5 separate regions of the Homo sapiens genome follow, and all the other regions are linked to region 1. Evidence: fine-mapped expression QTL. A gene starts in region 1. Each other region holds a variant in brackets. All regions are shown on one strand. Distances are from middle to middle. Region 1 holds the start of SDC3 (syndecan 3). Region 2 overlaps LINC01778 (long intergenic non-protein coding RNA 1778). Region 3 has its middle 7.5 kb from the start of PUM1. Region 4 holds the start of LOC400748 (a long non-coding RNA gene). Region 5 overlaps PUM1 (pumilio RNA binding family member 1).

Evidence for each region. PIP is the estimated chance that this variant, and not a neighbour inherited with it, causes the effect.
Region 2: its variant is fine-mapped to the expression of SDC3 in tibial artery (GTEx, PIP above 0.99). The same link has a PIP of 0.9 or more in aorta.
Region 3: its variant is fine-mapped to the expression of SDC3 in monocytes (TOPMed, PIP above 0.99).
Region 4: its variant is fine-mapped to the expression of SDC3 in pancreas (GTEx, PIP 0.95).
Region 5: its variant is fine-mapped to the expression of SDC3 in whole blood (INTERVAL, PIP above 0.99).

Annotation. Positions count from the first base shown.
Region 1 is chr1:30,905,896-30,911,991 of GRCh38, reverse strand. SDC3 (syndecan 3) reads left to right here and starts at 3,234. Exons shown (of 5, transcript NM_014654.4): 1 at 3,234-3,543. The coding sequence starts at 3,406. RefSeq lists a silencer at 3,190-3,279.
Region 2 is chr1:30,824,957-30,831,052 of GRCh38, reverse strand. LINC01778 (long intergenic non-protein coding RNA 1778) reads right to left here. Exons shown (of 3, transcript NR_146732.1): 2 at 4,859-4,922. Among named protein-coding and RNA genes, the nearest start is that of LINC01778, 3.4 kb to the right of the region's middle. The variant CAG/G (reference allele first, on the strand shown) is at 2,768.
Region 3 is chr1:31,070,166-31,076,261 of GRCh38, reverse strand. No RefSeq gene overlaps it. Among named protein-coding and RNA genes, the nearest start is that of PUM1, 7.5 kb to the right of the region's middle. The variant G/T (reference allele first, on the strand shown) is at 2,661.
Region 4 is chr1:30,852,738-30,858,833 of GRCh38, reverse strand. It overlaps LOC400748 (a long non-coding RNA gene), which reads right to left and starts at 654. Exons shown (of 2, transcript NR_188385.1): 1 at 468-654; 2 at 1-117. RefSeq lists a silencer at 2,238-2,532. The variant C/T (reference allele first, on the strand shown) is at 2,456.
Region 5 is chr1:30,985,760-30,991,855 of GRCh38, reverse strand. All of the region lies in intron 7 of PUM1 (pumilio RNA binding family member 1), which reads left to right. Among named protein-coding and RNA genes, the nearest start is that of SNORD103C, 21 kb to the right of the region's middle. RefSeq lists an enhancer at 5,725-6,096. The variant C/T (reference allele first, on the strand shown) is at 3,265.

The sequences.
Region 1 (6,096 bases):
TCCCACTTTTGAGCAAGACAGACAGTAGGGACTGAAAGCAGGGTGGGGAGTGCAGGATGAGTGTGATCAGGATGCCGGCAGGACAGGACCAGGCCTGATCACCCAGAGGACATCAGGAAGACTTCCCAGAGGAGGCAGTGTGTATTCTAAAGGCCGGAGGGGGCTGTGACTATTGTGCCAGGAGGCGGCAGCAGCTGGTGCCTGTGGGTGAGGTTATGGTGCTATGAAGGGAGACCCTGAGTATGTGGGGATGTGGCTCCAATGCACAAGGAGGCCTGGGCAAGGGTGACTGTGCAGATGACCCATGTGCTTGAGGGCAGGAAATGTGTGCATCTGTGAACCCCAGGGAGACCTGGGACCCGGGGGGAGCAAGATGAGAAGGACCTTCAGGGGCCCAGACCTGTCTTAGTTCTGGCTGTGACCAGTGTCTTTGAAGAGCAGCAGGTGGCGCTCCTGGCCTGTCCAGACCAAAGATTCTCCACTGCCCCGCCCCCACCTCTTCCCCAGGATGTCAGGGAAGTGGAGTTGCTGCTTCCAGAAGTCTCAGAGCTGGCAGGAACCTCTGAAGATGGGCCATGCTCACTGCCCATCTTACTCATGGAAACCATCCTAATGGTCTCCCTGCTAGATAGTTCTCCGAGCCTTGAATACCTCTCAAGACAGGATACTTACTGCCTCTTAGAATTGCCACTGCTGTCTGTGGCCAGCTGACATCTGGCTCCTCATAATCCCCACCCTAACCCTGCTGGCCCTTTGGGAGCGCCTCAGGGTTGGTATGTTCCTGGGATCTGCTCAGCATCTCTGAAGGATGATGTTATCCCTACATCTGAGTCCCTTCCTTTGTAAGCTTCATTCCCAGCCACCTTCATTGAACTCCATTACGATGGCAGGGAAGAGCTCATGTAATCCTCACAACCTGGTACCTGGCCTGGCACACAGCAGGCACCCAATTTATGCTTGCTAAATGAATGAATGAATGAACTCTGCGTGGTCATTATCTCTATATTACAGTTGGGAAATTGAGGCTCAGAGAGGTTAAGTCACACATCCAACACAATACAGCTCATAACTGGCAGAACTGGGATTTGAACCCAGATACTTGGCCGACCCAGAGCCAGAGCTCTTCAATTCCAAGCTGTGCTACCTCAACAGAAACCAGTTTCCCACCTATTGCACCCCATCAGCCTCCCTGCCCATCTCCCCAAGGTGCCAGTCAAATTTGGATCGAGCATTGATGTCATGCCAAAAGATTTGAGAATTGAATTTTCAGAGGCTGGGACCTCAGAATTCCTAGTTCGAAAGTCTCCCTGTCTTCCCTGTCCAGGATCCCTGTCAAAGGGTGGTGAGCTTGCCTTTCATACCCTTTAGGGACTGGGCTCTCCCTCCCTCCTGGGGAGCCCCTTCTAATTTATCTCTACTTTATGTTGAGTTGACCTTTGTCCCCTGGTCCTCCTCCCAAGGGCCCTGCAGGACAAGTACAGTTACCCCCAACACCAAAAACCCATGGCTGGTCCCCCAGAGTCTCTTCCTCAAGGCCTGCCCCTCCATTCATCCTGGTTTTGGTTCCCCTTTCCTTGAGGGAATTGTTCCAGTTTCAACTCAATTTCGTTCCCCTATTTTCTTTTCTTTTCTTTTTTTTTTTTTTTTTGTTTTTGAGAAGGAGTCTCGCTCTGTCGCCCAGGCTGGAGTGCAGTGGCGCGATCTCGGCTCACTGCAAGCTCCGCCTCCCGGGTTCATGCCATTCTCCTGCCTCACCCTCCTGGTAGCTGGGACTACAGGCGCCCGCCACCACGCCCGGCTAATTTTTTTGTATTGTTAGTAGAGACGGGGTTTCACCATGTTGGCCAGGATCTCCTGACCTCGTGATCCACCCGCCTCGGCCTCCCAACGTGGTGGGATTACAGGCGTGAGCCACCACGACCGGCCTGATTTCATTCCTATTTTCTAATGGCAGGCTCTAAGCTGGGTGCTGGGACACAGGGGCCAGAGAGGAGAGTAACTGAGGGTAGAGACGTCCAGCCAGCTGTCATCAGCAAATAACCTCTTCTTGCTGGCTCTCAGCTTCCCCACCTAAGAAGTGAAGATATTGACAGACCGACCTTATGGGGTTCCTGAGAAATGATATAACACATGAAAGCGCTGGGCACCTGGCATGTGGTCAGGGTTCCAGAAATGTTTCACTCTCCCCTATCTTGCCCCAAAACACTTGGTTTTGAGCCCCAGTAAATGGGAAACACATTCATTGATTCAGCAAATTTGGATTGAGCATCGATGTCATGCCGAGCTCTGTGCTGGTGCTGGGGACATAGCAGTGAACAAGACAGACACAAAACCCTGCCCCCGCTGGAGCTAACACGCCATTGGAGACTTGGAGAAGTAAGAACAGCATGGGGTATGCCGCTGGGGATGAAGGTGAAGGGGGAAAAGGCACCGTGACCACACAGGGTAGAAAGACCACCAGCGCTAGAGACTGCCACTCAGAGATGTACTTTTCTCGCCATCCTGCACTGGAGGGGGTGGTCCCATTCAACCATGGGGGGTCTGAGTCTCAGAGAACTGGGGGCCTTGCTGGAGGCGCACAGCTGGTGTGGAAGCAGCTGCGCTCAGGTCTGCGTGGCTTTTCCTCTGCAGATCCACAGTGACAGGGCCCAGAAGTGACCACCCCCATGGTCCCCTGGGGAGACCGAGGCCCAGAGAGGGCCGGGCCCTGATCTGAGGTCACACAGCCCCTGGGTGTCCTGGAGGCATGAAAGCCCGTGGTCTTGGATGACCTCTGGCCCACTGGGTGGACTGGCTGAGTGTGTGAGGGTGACGATGGGAGTCCAGGAAGAGACACGTGCGTGGAGCCACAGGGGGAGGCTGTAGATGAAAACGCCCATGCGACCCCTCCGCTCGGCGACTTCAGGGAGCCAGGCCCGGGCCCTGGTATCCCACGCGGGACCCTTCCCTTCTACCTAGCACGGCGGCCGCGGAGGTGCGTCCGGCGGGCTCCGCGACCTCCAGCCCCGGGATCGGCGAGGCCGGCTGCTCACTCAGGTGTCCGGGTGCCCACTCGGCAGCGCGGGGCTCCCTCTGGGTGGGGGCGGGGGCTGGGACTGGGGTCAGAGGGCGCGGAGCCCCGCGGGGGGCGCACTGGGGCCCGCCCCGCCCCGGGCCCCTCCTCCGTTCCGCCCGCGCTGGGGGCGGCCCGGCGGCGGCGGCGGCGGCGCACGCTTCCTGCGGGCGCGGCCGCTGTGGGCGCGGAGCTGCGAGGCGGAGCCGGGCGGCCGAGCCGGGAGCCCGCGAGCCTAGAGCGCGTCGGTCCAGCCGCCGGGCCGCGCCGCCGCCAAGCAGCCGCCCCGCGCGCCGCGCCTCGGGAACAAAGGCGCCCGCCCGCCGCCCGCCGCCCGCGCCCGCGCCGCCGCCATGAAGCCGGGGCCGCCGCACCGTGCCGGGGCCGCCCACGGGGCCGGCGCCGGGGCCGGGGCCGCGGCCGGGCCCGGGGCCCGCGGGCTGCTCCTGCCACCGCTGCTGCTGCTGCTGCTGGCGGGGCGCGCCGCGGGGGTGAGTGACACGCGCCCGGATCCCCGCCACGGCTCCCCGGGGCCGCCCCCCGCGCGGGGTGCCGGTCCCCGCCCGCGACCCCCCCTCCGGGACCCCGCTCCCTCCCCCCCGGCTGCTTCCCCCGGGGCCGCGGTCCCTGCCACCCCTCGACCCTCCCCCGAGCGCCCCTTTCTGCACCCTGCTCCCCCCCCTCCGGAATCTCCCCCTAGCTGGCATCCGCGGGGAGAGGCCGCCCCCGCCGCTGGTCATCTTCGGGGGGCGCATCTCTCCTTCCTTTTGGGACCCCTCCCCAGAGGGAATCCCGGGAGGGAACCCGATCGCGGGTCCTCAGCCCTGTTCCCCCACCTCCCAGTGGCTCCGGGAACTGTCTCCCCGGGGACGAAGCGGGACCCCTGCGCTGGCCTGGGAGGCGCGAGAAGGACCCGGCGGCGGGCTGGGGGTCGCCGTCCCGGCTGGGTGTGTCTTGGGGTGGGAGTGAGCCTGGCTTTTGCCTCGTGGGTGTGCCCAGACCATGGCCACTTTTTGGGAATCGGATCGGTTCCCCTTCCGAGGGGAGGGTGTGCATTTGGTTCTTCCCAGGGTCGCGGCAGCCGGCCAGGGCAGTGGGCCCGGGAAGGGGAGGTGGAGGTGGAGGGTGACTTGGTGAAGGTGACCTGAGGGGGGAGTGAGGGTAACCCTGTGTGTGGGCGTGTGTGGGCGTGTGTGGCCAACTCAGTGAGGGGTGCGGGGACCTGTGGGGCGTGTGCAGGTGAAGGATGTGTCTGCCACATGGGTGGATGCCAGCGTGCCCTCCCGTCCGTGGTCGTGGGAGGGTGACCCATTGTGCATGATGTGTGCCTGTGCCTGGCTGGGCCACTGTTGGCTATGGCCGTGTGTGGCTGCAGTGGGTGAGGGTGTGTGTGTGAAAGACCTCTGGTGGGCGTGTGCTTGGACCCATGAATGTGTGTGAGTGCACATAGCAGCGTGTGCATGCAGGTGCATGGGGGACCCTGGACATAGGACGAGGACCCCTGAGGGGAACCAAGCATGTGCAGGTGGAGGTGATGGTATGTATGAGGTGACCCTTGAGTGTCCCTTTGAGTGACCGTAGCAGCCATGCTTGGTCCCAGCTCCGTCAGGGATGGCAGAGAAAGGAAGGACCTCATCCCCCTTTGAGGGATCCAGGCCCCAGATGAGTTCTTGTTGGACAAGTGTCCAGGTTCTGGCTCAGGCGGGCTGGGGATTTCTAGGTCCAGCCTCCCAGGTTGGTTCCAGGAGCTATGCTGTCCTGCATCCCCCAGGCTGAAAAGGACCCAGGCCTCTCAAGCAACACTGGGTGCCCAGCCGCCCTCTGCAAGTTCCTTCCCTTTCCCAGCCTCAGTGGGCCAGTCAGTAAGACAGGAGGAGGACAGGCAGGGGCTCCAAGCTTGCTTCTTGGATGGACAGGCCCCTCCTCAGCCTTCCCCATCTAGGGGGCTGTCAGCTGGAGGGAGGGGAAGTGTTGAGGGCTGACCTGTGTGAAGTGCCTGCTGGCCAGGATGTCTCATTCCCAGCTCTCCCCTAAGTGGGGTGAGAGGAAGAGGTCCCTGGGAGGGATAGAGACCCAGCACACCCTAGCAGCTGGGGTCGCCTTCTCAGCCAAATTTCTGAAAGACCATCCTTAAAATCAAAGGCTTGGGAATCACACAACCCTGGGTTCCAATCCTGCTACCCCCGCCGATTCGTGGCATGGTTTGGGCAGGTCCTCTTACTTCTCTGACCCTTGGTTGTCCCTCTGTGAAATGGGGCTAATGACCCCTTCCTCAGAGGGCAAAAATTCAATGGGATGACTGACGAGTGTCCTGAGAAGGAGCTCAGGAGTCATGTGGTGTGCACATGAATGAAAGGGGCTCAGGACAGAAAGCTTTAGACTTGGAGGCCAGGTGGAGCGCTGGGCAGGCCACTTTCCTTGCTGAATAAGGCTAATAATTCATACTCCACGAGGTGGTGGAAGGACTTAGTGAGAGCATTTAATAGCCTCATGCACAGTAGGGCCTCGCAACACGGGTGACCTGAATCTGAGAGGTGTGGCTCAGACCCAGTGTTGGGTGGCAGATCAAGCAGACCCTGGGAGTCTGAGCCCAGAGGCTGAAATGGTGGGTGGGGCCTGGGGGAGGGCAGGTACTGGGGCGCCTGGTGAGGTGGTGGGAAGTGGAGTGTCCTCCAGGCCTCACATCTTCCCATGGGTCAAGCTGTCAAGGAGGGGCATCATCCCTCTTGTCCTCATCTGACTTGGGAGGAAAAGGGTTAATGGGTGGTACCTGGTTGCCGGGGTTCCGCACCAGAGGGAGAGGGCAGTGCCTGCAGCAGGAGGGACTGAGGTTAGATCAGAAGAGCCCCAGCCAGGGAAGCTCCAGGGGTGGCCTTGGTAGATGAGCGGTGGCTGGCACAGGGCAGGGAAGGGCAGGGACATGATGACCCTTGGGTCACCTGCCAGCCTTTGTGTGTGTGTGTGTGTGTGTGTGTGTGTCTTCGTGTCTTTCAGCATGGGGATAGCAGGGAGAGCAGGCCTCATTCACACTGCAGATGGTGAAT
Region 2 (6,096 bases), 81 kb after region 1:
TGCACTCCAGCCTGGTAACAGAGTGAGAGTCCGTCTCAAAAAAAAAAAAAAAAAGTTATCAAACATCTTTATTTGTATCTGATGAGAAGCATGGTTTCAAAATCAGAGCCCTCTGATTCTGGAAGTCCATGGTCAAGATTCCTCTTTCTCTCACGTCCAGTCCATTGGAAGTCCCGTCAGCTCTACCTCTAAAGCAGATCCTGATCACGCCCACAGCTCTCTAGCTAGCACGCTGTTATACCATATTTCACAAGGGCTCTCTTGACCCAATTTTGAGATCTTGGCGAAAAACTCTCAATTCCTCTTTGCGGGCACTTTGCTCAGCCTGCACCCCAACCCCTTTCCTTACTGGGCTCTAACACTCTTGGGTCACAACAATACACACAACTTCCAGGAATTATTTGCTAAACATCAAGGGATGAATACTTCTTCCTTGGGTCTGTGAAATCACTCAAAATTCCCAACCCACAGGAAGCCCCTACACCTGCTAACCCCACTCCACTTGCCATAGAGAAGCTGCCTCCTACATTCCAGCTTGCTGTTCCCCTGTCCTGGGTGCAACCAGGGGGTTGCATGTAGGGACACGGCCCCGCATGGCAACTTTCTCCCACTTGATGCTGTAAGTAATAGAGTTCTGCTTTTCATCTCATCAGAGGTCAGTGTGTCCGTCCTACCATCATCAGACCCTAATGTTATAACAGTAAACCCCTCCCCACCAGCTTCAGTCTGTCATCTCCAGCTTGAAGTCTTCAAATAGCCCCCTCTCTCCCTCCTTTCTATTACAGCCTGCTAGACTTCATCTGTCATAGAGCCCAAGTCATAAATCACATCCTTCCCTTCCCTGAATAAGAGGCTCTTAGCATTGAAATCAGACTGAAACCCAAACTTCTTCCTATGGCTTAAAAGGTCCTGTATGGCTTTGCTTCTGCCAATCTCTCTGACCCCATCCACTATTCCACTCTTGTTCAGTCTCACAGTCCTAGTTCTTAGAACATCTTAGAACACAGTAGGCACTCATAAATCTTCGATAAGTGTCAGGTAAACAGAAACCACTCTAGGTACATCAGACAAAGTGATTTAATTTAGGGAATTGGTTATAGAAACGTTGGAAGGACCAGTGGAGTGAAAAAGAAATGTGATGTCATTTTGGGCTCACAAGCCTGTACTCACCATCAATGCTGCTTGACTATTGTCACTGCCGCTGATAAAAGTTAGAAGCTTGGACTCTCTCTGATGTTAGTTCCAGAATCTCGCATGGATACATCCCACTGGCAGAACCCAGTCGAAATCCAACTCGAAGGATATCTGGGAAATGTAATTTTTTTTTATTTTTGAGACAGACTCTCACTCTGTCACCCGGGCTGGAGTGCAGTAGTGCGATCTCGGCTCACTGCAACCTCTGCCTCCCGGGTTCAAGCGATTCTCCTGCCTCAGCCTCCCGAGTAGCTGGGATTATAGGGATGCACCACCATGGCCGGCTAAGTTTTGTATTTTTAGTAGAGGTGGGGTTTCACCATTTTGGTCAGGCTGGTCTCGAACTCCTGACCTCGTGATCTGCCTGCCTCGGCCTCCCAAAATGCTGGGATTACAGGTGTGAGCCACTGTGCCTGGCCGGGAGATGCAATTTTTAAACTTCTAGGGCTGGTGATTCCAGGAGGAATGTAGAAGGCCAGGAATGGGGTATGGGTGTTTGGCACGGTAAGAAAGGCCTTTGAATGGCCCTGACTGCAGACCTCATGGGAATTTTGTCATGTGCCCTCTTTTCTGCCCTGGCTCCGCTTGTCCATGTTTTTGGCCATAAAGTGGCTTGGCCGGGGCCCATCATGCTGCACATCTTGGCCAGTATGCCTCACCTTCAGACTCCATGAACCTTGCTGGGGTCAACAGCTATGGGGAGAACAGCTTCCATTTCCCCCACTCTAGGCCTCATGCACTGCAGAACCAAAATTAGTTCTTCCTGTTGAACCCAGAACCTCATCAGGCTGCTCATGTAAATGAAATTTGAACAATTGTGGCCGCTAACCTGTGACCATGGAACTTAAATCCAGCTCAGGTTGCTGATCAGAACAGATGCCACAGCAACCATTCCGTGCTTCCTCTTACCTTCCCATCCCTCCAATCTATCCAAATTTCCCCCTCCTACTCCAGAAGCCAGGAATGAAGGTTATTCCAAAGAGTTGTCTAGATCCAGGGGCACAGACAGCTCCATGCCTAGAGTTTGGAGGGGTTAAGGTGTAGGCTGAGCAAAGTGCCCACAAGGAGGAATTGAGAGGTTTTAGCCAGGATCTCAAAACTGGGTCAAGACAGCACTTGTGAAATATGATATTACAGCATGTCAGCTAGAGAGGCCCTTCAGGTCCCTATATAGTCAATCTTTTTGGGCCAGGGATGTCAAGTCCAGATCTTGGAAGAAGAGTATGGACAGTCAGTCTTCCAGGCCAGTCAAGTGGTTCTCCATCTTTACAGAGAATCAGCCCTCCAGAGCCATGTATAGAGAGTTCTTTGGCTTCACAGTCAGAGTGTCCTCCAGAAATGGGATTGGATAATCTGGAGCCAGGAGGGCAGGACAGTGCAAAACCGGTGAGGAAGGGTCTTCCAGAAACAGGTTGCAGAATTCCAAAACTAGGAGCAGAAAGTCCTCTGGAGCCATGGAGTTTTCCCTAGAGCCAACAATGTTGTGGGACTATAAATGTCTCTGGAACATTTTCCAGAGCCAAGGACAGAGATATTTCCAGAGCCAGATACAGCAAAATTTTTTGCTGATCAA[CAG/G]TCATAGTGTTTTCTAGAGCTAGAAATAGAACCTCTTGAAGATGTAGAACAATCCATTTTTTTGCTATAAAGGATGGCATCTCTTCCAGTGCTGAGGGACACTGCCCTTCCTCCATCAAAGGCTGGAAAAGGCTGTAGGGCACTGTGCTGTGGGAGCCTCCAGTGACAATGAAGTTAATGCAGTTGATTTGTCCTTATAGATATCACCCACTTGGCCCTTTCTGCAAGAGATCCTGAACCTATGATCACTTCAAGATCCATACTCATGCAGAGACCTCATTAAAACATACTCTAGCCTGTAATCCCAACACTTTAGGAGGCGGAGGTGGGTAGATCACTTGAGGTCAGGAGTTCAAGACCAGCCTGGCCAACATGGTGAAACCGTGTCTCTACTAAAAATACAAAAAATTAGCTGGGCATTGTGGCAGACACTGGTAATCCCATCTACTTGGGAGGCTGAGGCAGGAGAATCGCTTGAACCTGGGAGTGGAGGTTGCAGTGAGCCAAGATCATGCCATTGCACTCCAGCCTGGGCAGCAGAATGAGAATCCATCTCAAAATAAAAATAAAAATAAAAACACACTCTCCTGTGTCTCCTTCCGAGGACCCTCTACTCAGAGAACTTGGGTGGTGGTGCCTCACTCAGAAAATATGCCCAAGCCTAGCTGGTTCTCTTCTATACCCTCAGATGGGGCATAACCCTTTGACTCCTACTGCTTTTAGAGGAGCGCTTCCACACAACAGGGCAGGTACATGAAGCACTGATGTGCAGAAGATTCTAGGCCCTCTTTTGTTTTCATCAAGTAGCAGATTCACCTCTTCTTTTAGTGATTATATTGGCAAATCACTCTGATGCCCACAAGTTCTAAATAAACCACCTGAGCAGTCCTAGAGTCAACACATTGCTATGCCAAGAACATGGGCCTTGGAACCTGACAGGCCTGGGTTCAATTCAGTAACACTGTGTGGTCTTGGAGGAGATACTTTCTCTCTCTGGACCTTTCAGATAGGATTAACAATAGCCATCCTGCAGGGCTGTCGTGAATGTTTAATGTAACAGTATGTGAAGGGCCTACATGTGCCCTGGCTAGAGGAGGTTCTAGTCACTGTTCAGTTGCAAGACAGACCGGATTTGGGAAAGTGCAGTGAGGGGGAAACTGGGTGCCTAAAAAGACTCTGGTTCTGCTGGTCAACCCAACTGTGTGACTCTGAGCAGTCACTTGCCTTCTCTGGCCCTCAGTTTCCTCATATGTCAAACCAAAGGTTGAATAAGAGGATTCTAAGGGCATTGCCAGCTCTGACATCCTGAAGGTTCCTTAATTGGAAGATCTGAGTTGATTCTTTTGACATTTAAGAAGCCACTCAATTGTCCTGTCTTGATTCATTGGGAGAGGACATCTGTAACCACTGCATCAGGGATTTCCGTGAGAGTTTGACGGTATTCATGTGGTATTATGACAAAAATCCAGGACTCAGCTGGGCATGGTGGCTGATGCCTGTAATCCCAGCACTCTGGGAGGCCGAGGCAGGTGGTTCACTTGAGGTCAGGAGTTTGAGACCAGCCTGGCCAACATGGCAAAACCCCATCTCTACTAAAAATACAAAAATTAGCCGGGCTTGGTGGCACCTACCTGTAATCCCAGCTACTCGCGAGGCTGAGGCAGGAGAATTGCTTGAACCTGGGAGGCAGAAGTTTCAGTGAGCTGAGATCATGTCATTTCACTCCAGCCTGGGTGACAAGAGTGAGACTCTGTCTCAAAAATAATAATAATAATAATAAAAATAAAAACCCAGGACTCTTGTCCCACCATCTACTTTGTTTCATGTTTTTCCTCGAGAGAGTGAATAACAAGTACGTGTGACAAATGAGAAGTCAAGACACCACTCTGTAATGAGTGAAGCAAACACCGGTATCCCAAAGCAGGGCTATGCCACACTGGAGTCCTCACCAGCCCTCTCCATCCTCCTCTAACACCCATAATAATGCCATTACTATAGCTGATTGATTGGATAGTTACATGTGCCAGGCAACAAACCTTATTTAATTCTCATAACAACCCAATGATTGCACTGTAATGACCCCGCTTACCAGAAAATGGGCCTCATCAGTCTTCAGAAATCTGACCCAACAGATAGGCAACTTTTCCTCCCTGCTGAGGGGTGATAGGAAGGGCAGACATGGTGAGCAGGGGGGCAGTCCCAGCTCCTAGGTGGTGGCTACGACATGACTAAAGAGATGGGAAGCAGGTGCATGGAGGTTGGAAAGGAAGTGCAGAGGCTGGGAGGGGTGGGTGGAGGCTGGGGTAAGGGTAATGGGGAGGGGGCTGATGGGGGTTTGGATTTGTGGAAGCGTACTTGGGATGAAGCTCTGTGTTGAGTGCTGGGAACGGAGGTGAATCACAGCCTCTGTGTGTGTGTGTGTGTGTGTGTGTGTGTGTGTGTGTGTAGAGGGTGGGGAGATGTGAAAAGAGATAGACATCTTTTCAATGCAGCATGATTCTTGAAACGAAAGTTGCATACACAAGCTGACACAAATATCATATGGAAGGAGAGCGGTGATCCTATCTGGCTGCCAGAGAAGCCCTCAGAGCCTCCCAGGTGAGTTGGTGCCATCTCCTCAGTCACCTGAACTATGGCTCCACGTCCTTTACACCTCCTCCTGAGTTTGGGTCTCTCCATCTCTACTCCAGCTCGGGTAGCCTTAGTCCCCCCTGCCCTGACTTTCCCCAGTCCCTGCAATGACTGGTCTCCTAGTCCCCTCCAGCCCATCCTCCACACAGCTGCAAGAGTGGAGATCTTCCTAAAATGCAAACCTAATCATAGCCCTCTCCCCTTCCATCCCCCAACTGCCTGAGAATGTGGTCCAAGATCCCTTAGCACGACATTCAAGCCCTTTGGGATCTTGTTCCTGCTTCCCCTTTCAGCTTTACTTTAAACTCCTCCTCCTCTCCAACACCCCGAACCCCACCATCTAATTTCCTGCCATAGTGCCTCGAGTGTTCCTTGCTTTTTACTGCCTCCAGTCTTTGCGCAGGCTGTCCCCTCTGCTGAGAATCCCTTCCCCACCGTTCCTCATCTGGCTCTTTCAGGTCCTGGCTCTGTATCCCTTTCTCCCAGCAGTCCTCCTGATTCGGTAGGTTGGATAGGGACCCCTCCTCTGTGTTCCCACAACCTCCGTGCTCCCTCTATTTTAATCCTTAACACACTGCCTTGCCATTTTCTCCTGGACTGCTTGCTTGATCAGACTGTGGGGGTGGGGGGCTTTGTGAGGGCAGGGGTGGAGGTGGACTCATCTTTGCGTCTGCAGAGCCCAGGTGCACCTGGATG
Region 3 (6,096 bases), 160 kb before region 1:
CTCCTACCTCAGCCTCCTGGGTAGATGGGATTACAGGCAAGTGCCACCACACCTGGCTAATTTTTGTATTATTATTATTTTTTAATAGAGACGGGGTTTCACCATGTTGGCCATGCTGGTCTTGAACTCCTGACCTCAGGTGATCCGCCTGCCTCTGCCTCCCAAAGTGTTGGGATTACAGGCGTGAGCCACTGGGCCCAGCCATGTCCACTTGTATACTATCATACAGAGTAGCCCTTATTGATATTTTTAAACCTAAGTTTATCATATCACATATTTACATTTTTATACTCGCTTTCTTTAGGTTCATATTTAGGTGGTATTTATTTTTAACTATCCCTCTTATAATCTTACCCAATCATAGCTTTTTTTTTTTTTGAGATGGCGTCTTGCTCTGTCTCCCAGGCTGGAGTGCAGTGGCACGATCTCAGCTCACTGCAAGCTCCGCCTCCCGGGTTCAAGTGATTCTCCCACCTCAGCCTCCCAAGTAGCTGGGATGACAGGCGCGCACCACCATGCCCAGGCTAATTTTTGTATTTTTAGTGGAGATGGGGTTTCACTATGTTGGCCATGCTTGTCTCCAACTCCTGACCTCAAGTGATCCATCTGCCTTGGCCTCCCAAAATGTTGGGATTACAGGAGTGCACCACCATGCCCAGCCAGCCCCATCATAGCATTCTTGTATTTAGTGGTAAGTTTAACCCTTCTATATTTATTGGAATTACTCTTAAGACTTTTTTCTGCTATATTTTATATCTCCTATTTACTGTACATTGTTTTTGTTCTTTTCACAACAAAGTTTTCTTCTTCTGGTTTAAAAGTTATAAATACTGCCAGGTGCCATGGCTCATGCCTATAATCCCAGCACTTTGGGAGGCCGAACCAGGCGAATCACCTGAGGTCAGGAGTTTGAGACCAGCCTGGCCAACATGACAAAATCCTGTCTCTACTAAAAATATAAAAATTAGGCTGGGCTTGGTGGCTCACATCTGTAATCCCAGGACTTTGGGAGGCCAAGGCTGGTGGATCTCGAGGTCAAGAAATCAAGACCATCCTGCCAACATGGTGAAACCCTGTCTCTACTAAAAATACAAAAATTAGCTGGGCATGGTGGTGTGCACCTGTAGTCCCAACTACTCGGGAGGCTGAGGCAGGAGAATCCCTTGATCCCTGCAGAGGTTGCAGTGAGCCGAGATCACGCCACTGCACTCCAGCCTGGCGACAGAGCGAGAATCCATCTAAAAAAAAAAAAAAAAAAAAAAGACCAGGTGAGGTGGCTTATGCCTGTAATCCCAGCACTTTGGGAGGCCAAGGTGGGTGGATCACCTGAGGTCAGGAGTTCAAGACCAGCCTGACCAACATGGAGAAAGTCTCTACTAAAAACACAAAAAATTAGCTGGGCGTGGTGGCAGGTGCCTGTAGTCCCAGCTACTTGGGAGGCTGAGGCAGGAGAATGGTGTGAACCCGGGAGGCTGAGCCGAGATTGTGTCAGTGCACTCCAGCCTGGGTGACAGAGCTAGACTCCGTCTAAATTAAAAAAAAAAAAAATTTAACTGGCTGTGGTGGCAGGTGCCTGTAATCTCAGCTACTCAGGAGGAGGCTGAGGAAGAATCACTTGAACCTGGGAGGCAGAGGTTGTAGTGAGCCAACATCGCGCCACTGCACTCCAGCCTGGGCAACAGAGTAAGACTCCATCCCTAAATAAATAAATAAATAAATAAAATAGCTGGGCATGGTGGCTCATGCCTGTAATCCCAGCACTTTGGGAGGCCAAAGCAGGAAGATATCTTGAACCCAGGAGTTCAAAATCAGCCTGGTCAACACAGTGAGACTTTTGCTCTACAGAATAAAAATAAAAAAATTAGGAAGGTGTGGTGGTACATGCCTGTAGTCCCAGCTAATGGGGAGGCTGAGGCAGGAGGATCACCTGGGCCCAGGAGATCGAGGCTGCAGTGAGCCATGATTGTGCCAGAGAGAGAGCCTGTGTCAAAATAAAATAAATTAAAAAAAAAAAGTCAAAATACGCTGGGTATTGTGGTTCACAACACTTTGGGAGGCCAAGGTGGGCAGATCACCTGAGACCAGGAGTTGGAGACCAGCCTGGGCAACACAGTGGGACTCTGTCTCTACAAAAAACTGAAAAATTAGCTGGGTGTGATGGTGCCTGCCTGTAGTCCCAGCTGCTCAGGAGGCTGAGGTGGGAAGATTGCTTGAGACTGGGAGGTTGAGGCTTCAGTGGGCCATGATGGTGCCACTGCACTCCAGGCTAGGTGACACTGTGAGATGTTGCCTCAAAAATAAATAAACAAATAAACAAATAACAAAAAAACAAAATAAAATAAAAACACCACTCCAGATCTCAAACAAGTCTTTGACAAAAACAAAGACCAAACACCATTCACCGTCTTAGCTATCTGTCAGGAAATACCTCACCTGGAAAAGTAGTTCTAAATATGGGGTTTACATCCCTCAGTTTCCTTCCTTTCAGAAATCCTGGCTCGGTAATTCTTCACTACCTTGTTGGCTTTCCAATAATATCAAGCAGAGATCTTTAAAATATTTTTCCAATTTTACCAGCGTTGGTCAGAATTACATAGTTACCAATACCAGACGTCCAAATTCTTCCTCACTCCTACTTTCCCATGGGAAAAGCACTCTAA[G/T]AATCACGACTTGCTATGAAACAAAATGACAGTGGAAATGCTAACAGTGTAACAATTACCTAAGCACCAAAACAATGAACTGAAGTGCCATCCAAGGGAGATTCTACAAATAGAAGAACACAAGTGTAACATAGTTGAAAAAGCAACTCAAACACTTATAACAAAATATCCACCTCCCCCAAAGAGAAAAATCCTTTCTGAAAATTGAGGGATGTAAACTTTACTTGGGAATGCTTTACATTCAGTTTACAAATACCAGATGATAGTAACATACTAGCCAAGTACAGGTGGTTGTAAGAGAATGAAAATCTGTGGAATTGTATCACAGTTGTCTATTGTGGACTTTGTTCTCATGGTCAGCAGGGCCAGGTTGGCTGATTCACCACTAAGCCTCCGAGCACACCTTGAGAACCGCTACCCTATGAAGAAGTAGCATTCAAAATTCCTGAACCCAGGCTTTCTAGAATGACCTACACTAAAAGTTTCTATTTTGAGATTTCTATCATTCTCTGATTAGGTTACAATGGAATGGATTAGGTTTTACTGATTAGATAAATAAAAATACCCTTCTCAAATCCACCTTAATCCTCTCCCTGGGTCAGCTTGATTAGATTTTAAGTTTCACAAACCCCCAAAGTTTGATGATATTGTCTATTATGTATCCGCTTAACCAGATGAATTGAGAAGATTGCCAAGTTTTAGACATGATTTCCACATTGTCTTGATCAGACAACACTCAGCAAACAGCCTTAGACAATGTTTGGATAAATACTAATCCGTTTCCTTTACCTCTTCAAGTTTTGGTTTTCTCATCTTTTTTAAAATTAGTTTTTAATTTTGTTTAAATTATTATTTTTTTAGAGACAGAGTCTCTGTTGCCCAGGCTGGCAAGCAGTGGTGTCATCATGGCTCACTGCATCCTTGACCTCCAGGGCCTAAGCCAGTGAGAGTGGCAGGAGGCAGACAAATGCCTAGGCAGATAAGGGTGAGTCCCGGGTGAAACCCCACCTCCAAGCTGAAGACCGTTTAAAGCCTGAAGCCCAAGCTACAAGTTAAATCCTCCGACTGTATTGAGAACTTTCTTCCTGTTTGGTGTACTTTCCTCTGATTGGGCCCCACCCTTCACCTGTTTTACATATACCTACCCTTTCCTAATTGGTTTTTCTACACTGTTGTGCCCACCTTTGAGTGGTGTCTTTACTTGAACCTTTTTTGCATACTCACAAACCAGTCAGCACACACTCTCCATTCTAAGTCCATAAAGGGCCCCAGACCCAACCACCTGGGGGACTTGCCCGCTTTCAAGTAGGGTAGGGGAACCACCCCTCACATCCCCTCTGCTGAGAGCTTTCCTTTTGCTTAATAAATTCTACTCCACTCACTCTCCAGTGTCCATATTCCTAATTTTTCCTTTTTCTAGGTAAAGAACTCAGACCTAGCTGAGCTAAGGAGCAGAAAGACTGCAACGCCATCCTCCCACCTCAGCCTCCTGAGTAGCTGGGACCACGGGTATGCACCACCATGCCTGGCTAATTTTTTTAATTTTTAAATTGTTTTTGTAGAGATGGGGATCTCACTATGCTGCCCAAGCTGGTCTTGAACTCCTGAGCTCAAGCAATTGGGGATTACAGGCCATAAGCCACCATGCCCAGCCAGTTTTCTCATGGGAAATGGGAATAATAATTTTGTCCATGTCATAGATATTTTGGGAGTTTTAAATGAAATAATGACTATAAAAGTCTTTTTTGTTTGTTTGTTTGTTTGTTTTTGACAGAGTCTTGCTCTATCACCCAGGCTAGAGAGCAGTGGTGTGATCTCTGCTCACTGCAACCTCTGCCTCCCAGGTTCAAGAAATTCTCCTGCCTTAGCCTCCTCAGTAGCTGGAATTACAGGCATGCAGCACCACACCTGGCTAATTTTTTTGTATTTTTAGTAGAGGCAGGATTTTGCCACACCGGCAGGCTGGTCTTGAACTCCTGACCTCAAGTGATCTGCATGCCTTGGCATCCCAAAATGCTGGGATTACAGGCTAATTTTTGTACTTTTTAGTACAGAGTTCTGTCATGTTGCCCAGGCTGATCTCAGACTCCTGAGCTCAAGCGATCTGCCTGCCTCAGCCTCCCAAAGTGCTGGGATTACAGGCGTGAACCACCGCGCCAGGCAATTATAGAAGTCTTAACACGGTGTGTGGCACAGGTAAACATTTGCTAACAGGACAGTCTCTAGTGTTTGTTGGAGGCACTGCTCTGATAGGATTATTTGGGTGCTGAGCTGGTGCCTCAGGCCCTGGAAGGTAATTCTTTAAGGGAAATCTATGGATGAGTGTCAAGTGTTCTGTTGGGATTGCATCATTTGACTGGATGGGGAGGCAGCTGAAGGTTGGTTCCACGTGGCTGTGGCTAAACTGACTTTAGAATCTATACACCAGGCCTGGTGAGGTGGTTCACGCCTGTAATCCCAGCACTTTGGGAGGGCGAGGCGGGTGGATCACCTGAGGTCAGGAGTTCGAGACCAGCCTGGCCAACATAGTGAAACTCCATCTCTACTAAAAATACAAAAAATTAGCCTGGCATGGTGGCGGGTGCCTGTAATCCCAGCTACTCCGGAGGCTGAGGTAGGAGAATTGCCTCAACCCGGGAGGCGGAAGTTGAAGTGAGCCGAGGTCATGCCATTGCACTCCAGCCTGGGCAACAAGAGCAAAACTCCATCTCAAAAAAAAAAAAAAAGAAAAAAAAAGAAAAAGAAAAAAAGAAAAAAAGAATCTCTACACCTGAATAATAAAAGCTAAAGTTAAAACTAAGGAGTGGCTGGACACGGTGGCTCACGCCTGTGATCCCAGTACTTTGGGAGGCTGAGGCGGGCAGATCACTTGAGGTCAGGAGTTCGAGACCAGCCTGGCCAACATGGTGAAACCCCGTCTCTACTAAAAATACAAAAATCAGTTGGGTGTGGTAGCGCAGGCCTGTAATCCCAGCTACTAGGAATACTGAGGCAGGAGAATTGCTTGAACCCAGGGGGCTGAGGTCACGCCACTGTACTCTAGCCTGGGCGACAGAGCGAGGCTCTGGCTCAAAACAAACAAACAAACAAAACCTAAGGAGTTAGTCATGGATCTCAGAATGAAATCATGGAGCACAGAACGTGTGGTAAGGTTCTGAAAACTGAAATCTTTGTAACTTTCTCATGTGTGCTCATTTGCTCAATTTCCCCCTGCAGGTTTTCCTATTATAGTTACCAGCACTTTGCAATGTCCTGGCCCGATGGGGCTAAATGCTTTATCAGCTTTATTTCATTCAGTGCTATTCTATTAGACCCATGTTATAGGGGAGAAAATGGAGGCTCAGAGAGATTAAGTAAATGATTTCTTGTCTGGCTCAAGCGCTGGATTTCCGAATACAACATCTTATGGAGTTGTTGAATTTGAATTTTGGGAGGC
Region 4 (6,096 bases), 53 kb after region 1:
ATCCCCACTTCATCTGGCCAAGCTTTAGCGCATGGATTTGAGGCAGAAATTGAAGCCAGACACAAAGAATGGGGCCTGAGTTGGGAAGTTTTGCATACCACACTTCTGAGTCTGCATCTGTAGAAAGAGCGTGACAAGTCCACATTTGTGTTCCAGGAAGATCACTCTGGTGGTAGCAGGGAGGACAGACAGGAAAGGAGAGACGGGAGTCTCTGAGCCCCATGTGAGCCCCCAAAACCACCCAACAGGACTTTGGAGAAAGAGGAAATGGGGTGGGGGTGGGGTAGAATAACTGGGCAGGCCTTGTTGGAGGAAGTAGGACTTGAGGGGGCTCTTGAAGGATTTGTAGAGGGAGAGGGGAATGCCAGGCAGGGTGAACAGCATGGGCAAAGGTAGAGAGGTGGGAACCATTGGTAGCTAAGAAAGAGTGGGGACACTCTTCCCTTTCTGTGACCTGTCCTTCCCACCTCCTCTCTGTGGACCTTTTGAGCAGGGAGGGGGCCTGCTCTGAGACTGAGCTCAGCTGCATCTCTGGGTGTCTCTTGCTGAGGGAGGGGGCAGGCTGGGTGCAGCTTCGAAAGGTCCTTCCATTGTGTGTGAGGCCCAGCCAGGACAGCAGAGGCGGGTGCACAGAGCCCTTTGTCCGCCGAGTCACCCACCAAGCGCTCTGGCGGTCTCCACAGTCCTCACTGACCTTACACTCAAGGCCGTGCCATAGAGACAGGTTGTTCTGCCTTGGCTGGCTCTGATATCATAGCTGAGGGAGGGGACAGGGGCAGGGGGTGGACAGTGGTGGCCTTTAAGGCTGTCCAAGGGCTGACAAATTGCCTCTTGCCCTTGAGGTGCAACGAATCACCATTTCATTAAATTCTTTAACACCATGATCTATAAAATGATGGAAACTTCCAGTACCTGAGAATCCCAGAATAATGGAATCTTTCTAAGATCGTGGAATCTTTCATAACAGACTCTGTGGGAATCAGAATTCTATTCTATAGAATAACAGAATCTTAAAAAACCACAGACTCTTTTAATATCTTCCTTCTGGGGTTGTGGTGAGAACAAAATGAAATACTACATGGAAGGTGGGTGCAGTGGCTCACGCCTGTAATCTCAGCACTTTGGGAGGCCAAGGTGGTTGGATCCTGAGGTCAAGAGATCGAGACCATAGTGGCCAAAATGGTGAAACCCTGTCTCTACTAAAAATACAAAAAATTAGCTGGGCATGGTGGCGCCCACCTGTACTCTGAGCTACTAGGGAGGCTGAGGCAGGAGAAGCGCTTGAACCCGGGAGGCGGAGGTTGCAGTGAGCCGAGATTGCGCCACTGCACTCCAGCCTGGTGACAGAGTGAGACTCTGTCTCAAAAAGATGAAAAAAAGAGAGATACTATGTGGAATGTACATAGAATAGGCCTGGAACATTGTAAATGCTCCCTAAGTGTCAGCTTTTTTCCCCATTTTGAGGAAAACCAGGCCCAGAGAGGTGATGTGACTTGTCCAGGGACATGCAGCTAGGAGGTGGTGGCACAGAACATCAGTGGCCTGGAGGGAGCCCCAGGTGGCCTGAGGGCCTCTGACACTGAGTCCCCCATGGCCAAGCCAGCTGGTCTGTGTCTTAATTAAGGTCTCCAAGGTGGGGGTAAGGGTGGGAGGATGAGAGGTGGGGGTGAGGGTGGGAGGCAAGAAGAGGGGGCCAGGGCTCCACCAATCCCTGTGTAACCTCTCTGGGGCTCAGTTTCTCCCATTTTAAAAGGGAAATAGTATTTCCCTTCCTACTTCCACCACTGGGGAGTGGTAAGGCCGCCACTCTGGTCAGGCCTCCCTGACTGTGTGTTCCTGGGTAAAGGACATCATTTCTCTGGGCCCACATCTTCACTGGTGCAATGGGGAGAATAAGGACGGAATCACCATGAGGATTGACTTGAGGAACTAATATCTTTTGAGACAGTGTTAAACATTCGGATCCTAGCTCTGTGGCTCCACGGGTCGGTGATTTGGGGTAAGTCTCATAACCTTCGGGTACTTCAGTTTCCGAAGCTGCAAAATGGAAACAACAGGAATGCTCATTTAGATGAGATGGGTTAATACAAGTGGAGCGAGCACTTAGAACTGTTCCTGGCAAGTGGAAGTGTTTAGCAGGCATCCACGATCATTGTTATCACATAAGGCTTAGTCATTGTGAGCAATTATAATTAATGGTCAGTGAAGAGCTTGCAAAGTGCTGCACAATTGTGTGTGTGAGCACCTGTGTGTGCATGTGAGTGTGTGTGTGTGCTCGAGTGTGTACGATGGTGCTTATTAAAAACAGAGCCTGCGGCCCAGAGTTGAGCTGTGTGCCTGGAATAGCTGCTTCTCCTGGCGGCCTCCCCAGGGACTGGAGTGTAATGAGTGTTTGCAGAGCCCCCCGCCAGGCAGAGATGAGAGGCACCGAGGAGCCAGCGCTGGAGCCAGGCGG[C/T]GGCTGGGAGCCCAGTGTTATTATATTAATGAGAACCAGGGTGATGATTACTATTAACGAGATTAGTCACCAGGGGGCCTCCCCACTTCACCAGGCTCGTGCCTATGGCAGGCGAGGCAGGCAGGCATTCTCTACACCCACCACTCTTCTCTCTGTCTCAGGGGAAGGGTTGAGGATTCCCTGGTGCCAGGCACAGTGCCAATCCCCTTACAGCCTTGTCTCACTGCATCTTTCCAAGCCCCTGGGGTTAAATATTGGTGGTCCCACTTTACAGGTGAGAAAACTGAGGCTCAGCAAGGGCTCTGTCTGACCTGGGAGCACAGATATTTTTATTGCCCCTTCATGTGATCTGCAAACATTGACAGTGAACCAAGCCCTGGCACTTTACATGGGTTAATCTTTTAGTCTTCACGACAATGCCATGAGGAAGGTGCTCTTGTTAACTCCCTCTGCATGAGGAAACGGAGGCACACAGCAGTTAAGTAACTTGCCATCTGCATCACAATGTCTCCCACTTTCCAGCAAGCCCCTCTCTCTCCAGCAGTCAAGGTGAAAGTGTGGCTCCCAACCCTTGGTTATTCTCTATATAGCCAACCGTACCCACGGCTCTGTGATCAGATGCTTGTGGGCAGTTTTTCTGCTTGTCTCTTGTCCCCACAGGTCCCTCAGCCAGGCCACCTCTGGGCACAGACTCCTAGTGCCACCCGCCAGGCAGAGCTGAGGCTGCCACCTACACATTTATGCCACAAACATTATCCTGGCCCTTCTTGGGGCCAAATGTCAATCCTTTTAGATGCACTCTAAGAAGTTGGGTTCTCATTTAACTTTTAGTGGACAGCTACTCTGTCCAGCACTGTGCCAGGCTGGGGACACAACAGTGGGAGAGACAGACCTGACCCTGTCCTCATGGAGCTCCTAGTCTCATGGACAAACTAGTACATGGCATATACTTAGTGTCAGTTTTTCTGAGTGCTTCAGTGGAAGGACGGTGGTCTGTGGACTGTGCAGGAGGGAAGAGTGCGGTTGGAGTGAGGGAGGAGTGAGGCAAGGAAGCCCTCTCTCAGAAGGTGAATTTAAGATGAGATGTAAGGGTTGAGCAGGAGCTAGACAGTCACCAAAGGGAAGAGCATTTCCGGCAGAAGTACCTGCCTATGAGGAGATAAGACCCCCAGGGAAGTCCTGCCTGTCTAATCAGTGCACCATCAATGCTCAGGTGTCTCCTTGGGCCAACAATCATTCACTCAATCAATCATCACTTCTCAGTTAATATTTTCTCATTCAAATAGTTCATTTACTCACTCATTTTTTCATTCATTCATTCTGTATTTCCAAATGCCCATCCATTTCAGTCTTGGTGTTGGTCAGGGGGACTCAGAATTGAATCAGTTGCAGTCTCTGTCCTGACGTTGTTTCCAATCTAGGGGGGGAGATGAATCCTTCCTTACACATGACACCATGTCATCAATGAACATGAAGACTCTTCCTCCAGGCTGGGGAGGTGGTAGTCAAGAAAGGCTTCCCAGAATAGGGGCCATTTGAGCTGAGTCTTTTTTTTTTTGAGACAGAGTCTCGTTCTGTCGCCCAGGCTGAAGTGCAGTGGTGTGATCTCGGCTCACTACAGCCTCCGCCTCCAAGGTTCAAGCGATTCTTGTGCCTCAGCCTCCTGAGTAGCTGGGATTACAAGCACGCACACCACGCCCAGCTAATTTTTGTATTTTTAGTAGAGATGGGGTTTCATCATGTTGGCCAGGCTGGTCTCGAACTCCTGACCTCAAGTGATCAACCCGCCTCAGTCTCCCAAAGTGCTGGGATTACAGGTGTGAGCCACCTTGCCCGGCCTGAGCTGAGTCTTTACAAATGAACAGGCACTCAGGAGGTAGAAAGAGGGAGGTGGGCAGTGGTGCACAGCATGTGCAAAGATATGAAGAACCCCAAATGCCAGGATGTGGCAGAGACTGCTGGCTTTGCAATGATATCTGTTTTTCCTTTCATATCCATAACACATGGAAGCTTGGAAGAAAGACTACGTTTCCCAGCGTGCTTTGCAGCCAGGTGGGGCCATGTGACTAACGTGGCCAATAGGATGCGAGCAGAAGTGTAGGCTGTTTCCCTTTGATAGTGGTGTGCCTGCCCCGTCCCTTTTCCCCTACCATTGGCGGAAGGTGCAGGTGGTCCCATCTTGAACATGTGAATGAGGGCAACACGGAATGACAACAGCTTAACAAGACAGAAGGAACTTGGGTCCCCTATGCCAAGGAGCACCAGCCTTTAATGGTTGATATGTAAATTATTATATGAGGGATAAAGAAACTTCTCTCTTCTTTAAGCCAGAGTTATTTTGGGTCTCTGCTTTAGAAGCTCAACCTATATCCTAGCTAATAACCAGACTAAAGGCTATTATCTCCTAGGGCACAGGGAGCTGTCAGAGTTCTGTGGGGAGGGCAGTGACATTGTCAGATTTGCGTTTTTGGAAGCTCTCTCTGGCCACAGAATGCACGATGGGTTGGAGGGGAGAGAGACTGGAGGCCGAGAGACTAGAGAAGGGGTTGATGCTTTCAAATGGGGCAGAGGTACCCAAGCCTGACCCAGGGCAGGCCAGCTCTATTGGTGCCTGCTAACAGAGAGAAGGCTAGGTTCTCTACCCAGGCCTGAAGCCAAGCCTTGTGGGCTGCCTGCAGCCACTCTCTCTTCCCATTACTTCCAGAGCTTCCAGCCTTGAATACAACCCAGAGGCCCCTCTTGTGAAATCTGACCTTCAGCTGCCAGTAGAGCCCAGGACAGCCCCTTCTGGGGAGGGTTGGTCATGCAGGACTGAAGGCGGAAGGCAGGGGCTCTGGAGGATGGATTTGGGGAGGAGGGAGAGGTAGGTGGAACAGAGCCTATGGTGGGGAGGGGGCTGTGTAGGCGATGGTGATGGGGCAAGGACAGATGGGAGAAATAATGAAGAAGGGGACTGTGCTAGTCAGGTCTCTTCTAGTTTCGGTACCAGAAACCCAACCAGAATACATGAAAAATGGGCTGCACCGGCTTCACCCCTGGCAGGCATGGGATGGTATCGGCTCAGGAGCACCTGGATCAGCTGGGACTCTTACCCTCTCTACTCTGTTGGTTTCCTTCTCTTCTGTTCTTGAACTCCTGGGCACACATGATCCTCTGGCCTCAGCCTTTAGAGTAGCTGGGACCACAGGCGTGCACCATTATGCCTGGCTAATTAAAGAACTTTTTTTTTTGGTAGAGTCAGGGTCTTGTTGTGTAGCCCAGGCTGGTCTCCAACTCTTGGGCTCAAGTTATCCTCTTGCCATGGCCTCCCAAAGTGTTGAGATTATAGGCACGAGCCACCACACCCGGCCTAGGCTCTTTTCTAAAGCACACTCTGTCACTGGGTCTGGGAAGTCCTCCCTGATCTCACCCCGGTCCAACAGAGCTGGGTGCTCCCTCCTCTGGGCCCAACGTTCCTGCTATGGCCCTCTCTCCAGGTACATCTCACCCTGTGCTCCAGTGAGGGACCCGCATAACTATGTCCTCCTAGGCTGGGAGCCCTCGTGTGTGTACTGCCTGCCTTTAGTTATCACCTCCTGTTCCGGCCTCCCTCCCTGAGCCTTGGTCCCACCAGCCCTTGGGTATCTGCCTGTGTCTCTCTA
Region 5 (6,096 bases), 80 kb before region 1:
CTACCATGAAATTGCTTGGCTCTTTTTCTTTTTTTAAATTCATAAGTCCCTGAAGATGTTGTATGTCTACCTTCTGTTTTTGAAGACATGTAGGACTACCTCTAGGATTAACTGATCTCTGTGTTTATTTATTTATTTTTTAAAGAAAGGTCAGCTGTCTGAACTACAAAAGAGGGGCTGTTAGTTTCCCAATCTTGTTAAGTTCTCCCTTGTGGCGGAAGCAGTTTGATTGACCATGAATTTCTGTTACTCTTTAGTAGTTTTGTAATAGATCGTTAATGCAGACTTCTAGGTTTGAAAGGTTAGCATCTCATTTTGAAGTTTAGAAATTCTATGTAGGGAAATTAGCTTATGGTCTTTGGAGATTATTATGCCGTGTTGTACCTTTAGTTATTGTCATAAATAGCTGATACTAAATGAATTTTGATTGATAGAGTAAAAAGTTAAACATATGAAGTTTCCCTTTAAGTCTCCTGTGTCGTTTATGAACAATAAATACCTTTAAGGGATTGTGTGAATGTGCATATTCATATAAGGTTAAATTAACAAAATATCTTTCAGAGAGAGTAAACTGAAAGTGTACACTCTTCTCCGTGCAGTTCTTAGTAGGTATGCCTGCCTCCCCATATGAATTGACTCTCTGTGCTTTTTTTCTCTTTATGGCCATTTTTGGTTCTTAGCTTCCATTCCCAGTGTAATGCAATCTAACACTTTCTGTGTTTTTTAAGAAGGGTTTGTCTCAGATTTCTTATGAACAAAAATATATGGTTCTCTCTTTTTTTTTTAAACTGTTCTTTACTTCATAATCAGAGTTGATATTCTTTTTTGATTTATTGATCTTTGGTTTCAAAATAATTTTACCAGTTTTTGGAGACTGGACAATTATTAGAACTTGAACAGAAATGTACTTCTATGTACCCACAAGTAGTTAGCATGATTACATCATAGCTACCACTTATTCAAAAATATAAAACCAAGGGTGCCCTCACCATATATCTCAGCAGTTATTGAAAGTAAACATTATTTTGAAAGTTAATCTCTTGTTGGATTCAGGTTTCCTGTGCATGTCTTGGTTGCTGCAACATAGAGGCATTTTTACACAGACATACCACTGTCATGATGTGAGTGTTGTTTTATCTCATGGGCCATAATTCTTTTCTGAGTAGTTTGTTTTATACATTCTTGTACCGGGGGCCCTAATAGCATACCTGGGAACCACTGGCGTAAGCCTCCTATATCTTTAAGACCCTCAATCTCTCGGTGTTCCTGTATAAGAGCTAGTAGTTGTCAAGAAGGAACGATTCCTTTTCTATTGGAAATTGGTGTTTGTTTCTTACATTTTATCCCTTATCCTTTTAGTTTTCATTACATTTTATTCCACTTTTCATTTCTAATTTACGTCCACCTCATTTGTCAAGGTTCAGTACTGTCACCTTCCTTTCTTAGTCTCCAAACCAAAAAGCTGTCATGTCTGCCTCCCTAGAACTCCATAGCATTTTGTGTTTCCTTTAAGAGAAGGTGTTACCATGTTTTGTCTTGTGTTGTGATTACTCGTCTAATAGTCCTTGCCAGATTGTAAGCTCCTTGAGGGCAAAGACTGAACCTTACCCCATTTCCTCTGCATTGCTTTAGCAGAACAAGGTTTCAGGGGACTTTCCCCCATCCCTATTATAATATCTCAGTGCATCCTCTGTACGTAATATGCTTCCCAAAATTAAAATTTGAAACTAGCCTTTCAGGAGGTCTGGAGGCTACTCTTTGAGAACTACCGTGTTTTCTAATATGTGTGTCCTTTGGATCCAGCTTACCACTTATATACAAATAACTATGCTGTATAATATCCAGGAAAGTTACTTCTTGGATCAGAACTTAATATTTTAAGGCTCACTCTGTTGTCATCTGATCAGAAGCCATGGTCTCTCTCATGAGAAAAATGTACATAATTCTCTGACACTCAGTTTTGTAGATAACTTCAGGGAGACCACAGATTTGTGTTCTACAGATACAGCCTTCTGTTCATATCTTTTGTTCTTTGTAGCCAACCATATCTTTCATGAATAGAGTAAGATTCCCTTTCTTCTTCTTGATTTGCTCTCAGGTTAGTCATTGTAACTCACTTTATCATTTAAATTGTGCATGGAAGTACTCGATGACAAGTGATGAGACCATTTATGCCCATATTCTTGGAACCCTGCAACTATGGAGAGTGTACTCTGGTCTCTTGGGAAGGGAAGGACTTTGTGGAAGAAGTGGTTCTTTTTTTTTTTTTTTTTTTTTTTTTTTTGAGACGGAGTCTCACTCTTTTGCCCAGGCTGGAGTTCAGTGGTACGATCTTGGCTCACTGCAACTTCCGCCTCCTGGGTTCAAGCGATTCTCCTGCCTCAGCCTCCCGAGTAGCTGGGACTACAGACACCCACCACTGTGCCTGGCTAATTTTTGTAGTTTTGGTAGAGATGGGGTTTCGCCTTACTGGCCAGGCTGGTTTCGAACTCCTGACCTCAGGTGATCTGCCCGCCTTGGCCTCCCAAAGTGCTGAGATTACAGGCATGAGCCACTGCGCCCAGCCAGAAGAGGTAGTTCTTTAGCTGTGCCTTGAAAGACTTTTTTATATACGAAGAAAATGAGAATTCTAGTGGAGGAAATAGTAAAACAGATATGTGTTCAGTAGATAATGTAGAAGTAGTCAGTCTGGTTGGTGGTTAGGTTGAAGAAAAATAACTAGAGAGGTTGAAGAGATGGTGTTGTGAGTCTTATGCTGTGTTGCCTATAGGAAATGAGAAGACACTTTAAAGCAGGAATTACTTAATTATTATAGTTTGTTTTTTTTGTGGTTAGTGTGAGTTTAGCAGCAGTTTGAGGCATTCTCTTACTCTTATTATTCAGTTAACTGTTGACTGTTGTGTCCTTCTAGGAACCTTGGGTTCTGAATGAAACAGTAGTGGAATATTTGGGGAACTAAGTGCTAAATTAATGGGTTCTGAATCTTATCAGACAAGGGGAGGGCTCAATGAGGACAAAGGTTGCATGCAACTGACTTGAAGGACAGGTGGAATACATTTTGTTGCAGGTCAGAGCAGAGGTATGGAGCTGGGAATGACTGTGGTGTAGTCCTAGGCTGAAGAGAGTAGAAGACGAGTGTACAAGAGGACAAGGAGGTACAGATGCCTTTGAAAATTGAGTCCCGGAGGCCTTGAGAACCAGCTGGAAGTCTCAGACAGTACTGATGATTGTGAGGGTTGGACCAGAGGTCTAGTGCAGCACATA[C/T]TTTTCTGCACATTCTGCTCTTTTTATCTTGGCTTTCTGAAATAAGCAACAAAGGTGATCATTTTTCTTGGTTTAGAGTTTGCTGCAAATGGTAGGTTTGCTTTATTTGTGATTTTTTAGAATAGGAATCTGGTTTGGAGGTTGACAAAATAAGTAATTCTCTCTTTTGTTATATTTTCTTTCAATCTTGGCTTTGATTTGGTGTAATAAGCTGGTTTCATCAAACTTATTATCAGCCTATAATGAGATACATGACATGGAGCAGCCTGCAAATAGGGAAAAGGTAATTTTCATTTAATTCATTGCAAACTTAGTTCTTGTTAGCTGTGACATGGGATTTTGATGAGTCAGTTGGTTGTCTGGTCACTGTTAATCACTCTGAATTTAACCCTTGTAAGGTTTATTTATAAGAGCAGGAGTTTCTAATTCTTTTTTGTTTGTTTTTGTGTGTGCCGTGAACTTCTTAATAAGTGAACCATGTGGACTACTTCTCAGAATAATGTTTAAAATGTATAAAGTAGGATTACAAAGGAAACCAGTGGTATAAAAATAGCTGTCATATTTAAAAACAAAGTTAATTATATATTTACTTATTTATGATATGATGCATGAAATAGAAGTAGATGTACTAGCTGTCATAATGAGCACAAGTAAGATGTTGAGATACTTGTAACAACTGTAAAGTAACATGAAAGTATATGTGATTTCTGTTTGTGATAATGTCACAGGTATATTGCTAAAGTTAATGTAGTTTGTTGTCTACAATCATAATTGAAGAACATGCTAAATTTCAGGTAAATGTGCATGAGATAAAGATGCAGTATTACCCACCCAAGTACAAATATCTTGGGTTCAGAACCTCTGACTTGGAGTATTTTGTCAGCTTGAAATGCTCGTTGTTATTTCTAAAATGTTCTTCCTTTGTCTCAAATTCACTTCATTGTCTTCTTAATCCTGGAAAACAGCTGTGAGCAGTTCATGCATAATGTGTTCATACCATTTTGTACTGTGATGTTGGAGCAGTATTTATTTTTTACAAAATGCTATACAGTTGCCTGTTTCCTTAAATGCAGTTTAGAAAATTATTACTAGGTTTTGGCTAGGCGCGGTGGCTCACGCCTGTAATCTCAGCACTTTGGGAGGCCGAGGCGGGCAGATCATGAGGTCAGGAGTTCGAGAGCAGCCTGGCCAATATGGTGAAATCCCCTTTCTACTAAAAATACAAAAATTAGCCGGGCGTGGTAGCACACGCCTGTAGTCCCAGCTACTCGGGAGGCTGAGGCAGGAGAATCACCTGAACCCAGGAGGCGGAGGTTGCAGTGAGCTGAGATCACGCCACTGCACTCCAGCCTGGGCGACAGAGTGAGACGCCGTCTTAAAAAAAAAAAAAAAAAAATTTGTTACTAGGTTGTATTATGTTACAAACATGGCACAAACCAAAGCCAGGATTATATCAGTGTAGAATTAATTGTATTGTTGATCTTTATTTAGAATTCAGTTAATCTAAAAATAGCCTAATGTAGTATGTTTCACAAAATTGGACACTGTTGTACTAAAACTCATCTGTTAAGCATGAATTTTAACAAAGATTCAATATTCTGAAAATGAAAGTTGAAGTATGGTATTCATTCCTGCACGACCACAGTCAGAGGGGAGTGGAAATCGGCATGTGTTAAAAGTGTGGCAGTGTGATTAAATGTCATTCTCGTGAGGCCAAGTGTGTATATACTTTTAATGTAGGTATTTAATATGCTCAACTTTCTCTTTAACTTACAAATGATTATTCTATCAAGTGTCATGTGTATAGTAACTGACAAAGAGTGACTAGTAATTGATCAGTTGAAGCTTAACTTCTATTGTTATTTGACTTCGTTCAAATTTTACTTATGGTGAAGTTTTTCTCAAAAAGTATTAATAATACTTAGTGAAGGGATGTGTTTTGTTCTTCCCTAGGACCTTAGAAATCATTTGTTTTGGAATCAGATTCTTCATCTGCCAAAGAAATGCACAGATGATGATGATGATGATTTTTTTTTTTTAGTTTAGCAGCATGGTTTAATTTGTATGCGCCTACGAAAAATCATTGTAATCATTAGTTGATCATTGCAGTAGTTCAAATAACCTGGTATAAACTGGGCTTTTATCTAGAAGCTTCAAGCAGTAACAAGATTTCACAAATTTCATATGCTGAGGAATGACTCCAAAATAAACCTTTTTCTTAAAATTTTAGAATCCCATCATTGATATAGTGCTTTTACTGTTTCGAAGGGATTTTCTCTGTGAACCCTGAAAACAACCCCACGAGGTAGGGCAGCTATTTTATTTTTACACATAAGAGGCCAAGCATGGTGGCTCATGCCTGTAATCCCAGCGCTTTGGGAGGCTGAGGCTGGCAGGACACCCAAGGTCAGGAGTTTGAGATCAGCCTGGCCAACATGGTGAAACCCCGTCTCTAGTAAAAATACAAAAATTAGCCAGGTGTGGTGGCGCAAGCCTGTAATCCCAGCTACTCCAGAGGCTGAGACAGGAGAATCGCTTGAACCCAGGAGGCGGAGGTTGCAGTGAGCCAAGATCGCACCACTGCACTCCAGCCCCGGGGACAGAGTCTCACTCTGTCTCCAAAAAAAAAAATCAGTGAAGTTTAGGGACTTGTTTGAAGGTCATCTAGTACAAGCTATGCAGATAGCTATTATTTTGGTTTCTAGCTTCAGGCTGTCTCTTTTGAACTTTGTATTAGAAACGCAGGGCCTTTTAATAGGTGGAGTTGTCTCACCTTCAAATTCAACTACATAGCTTTTTCTTAAAGTAGTATAATGCAGAAAGTACTCATCC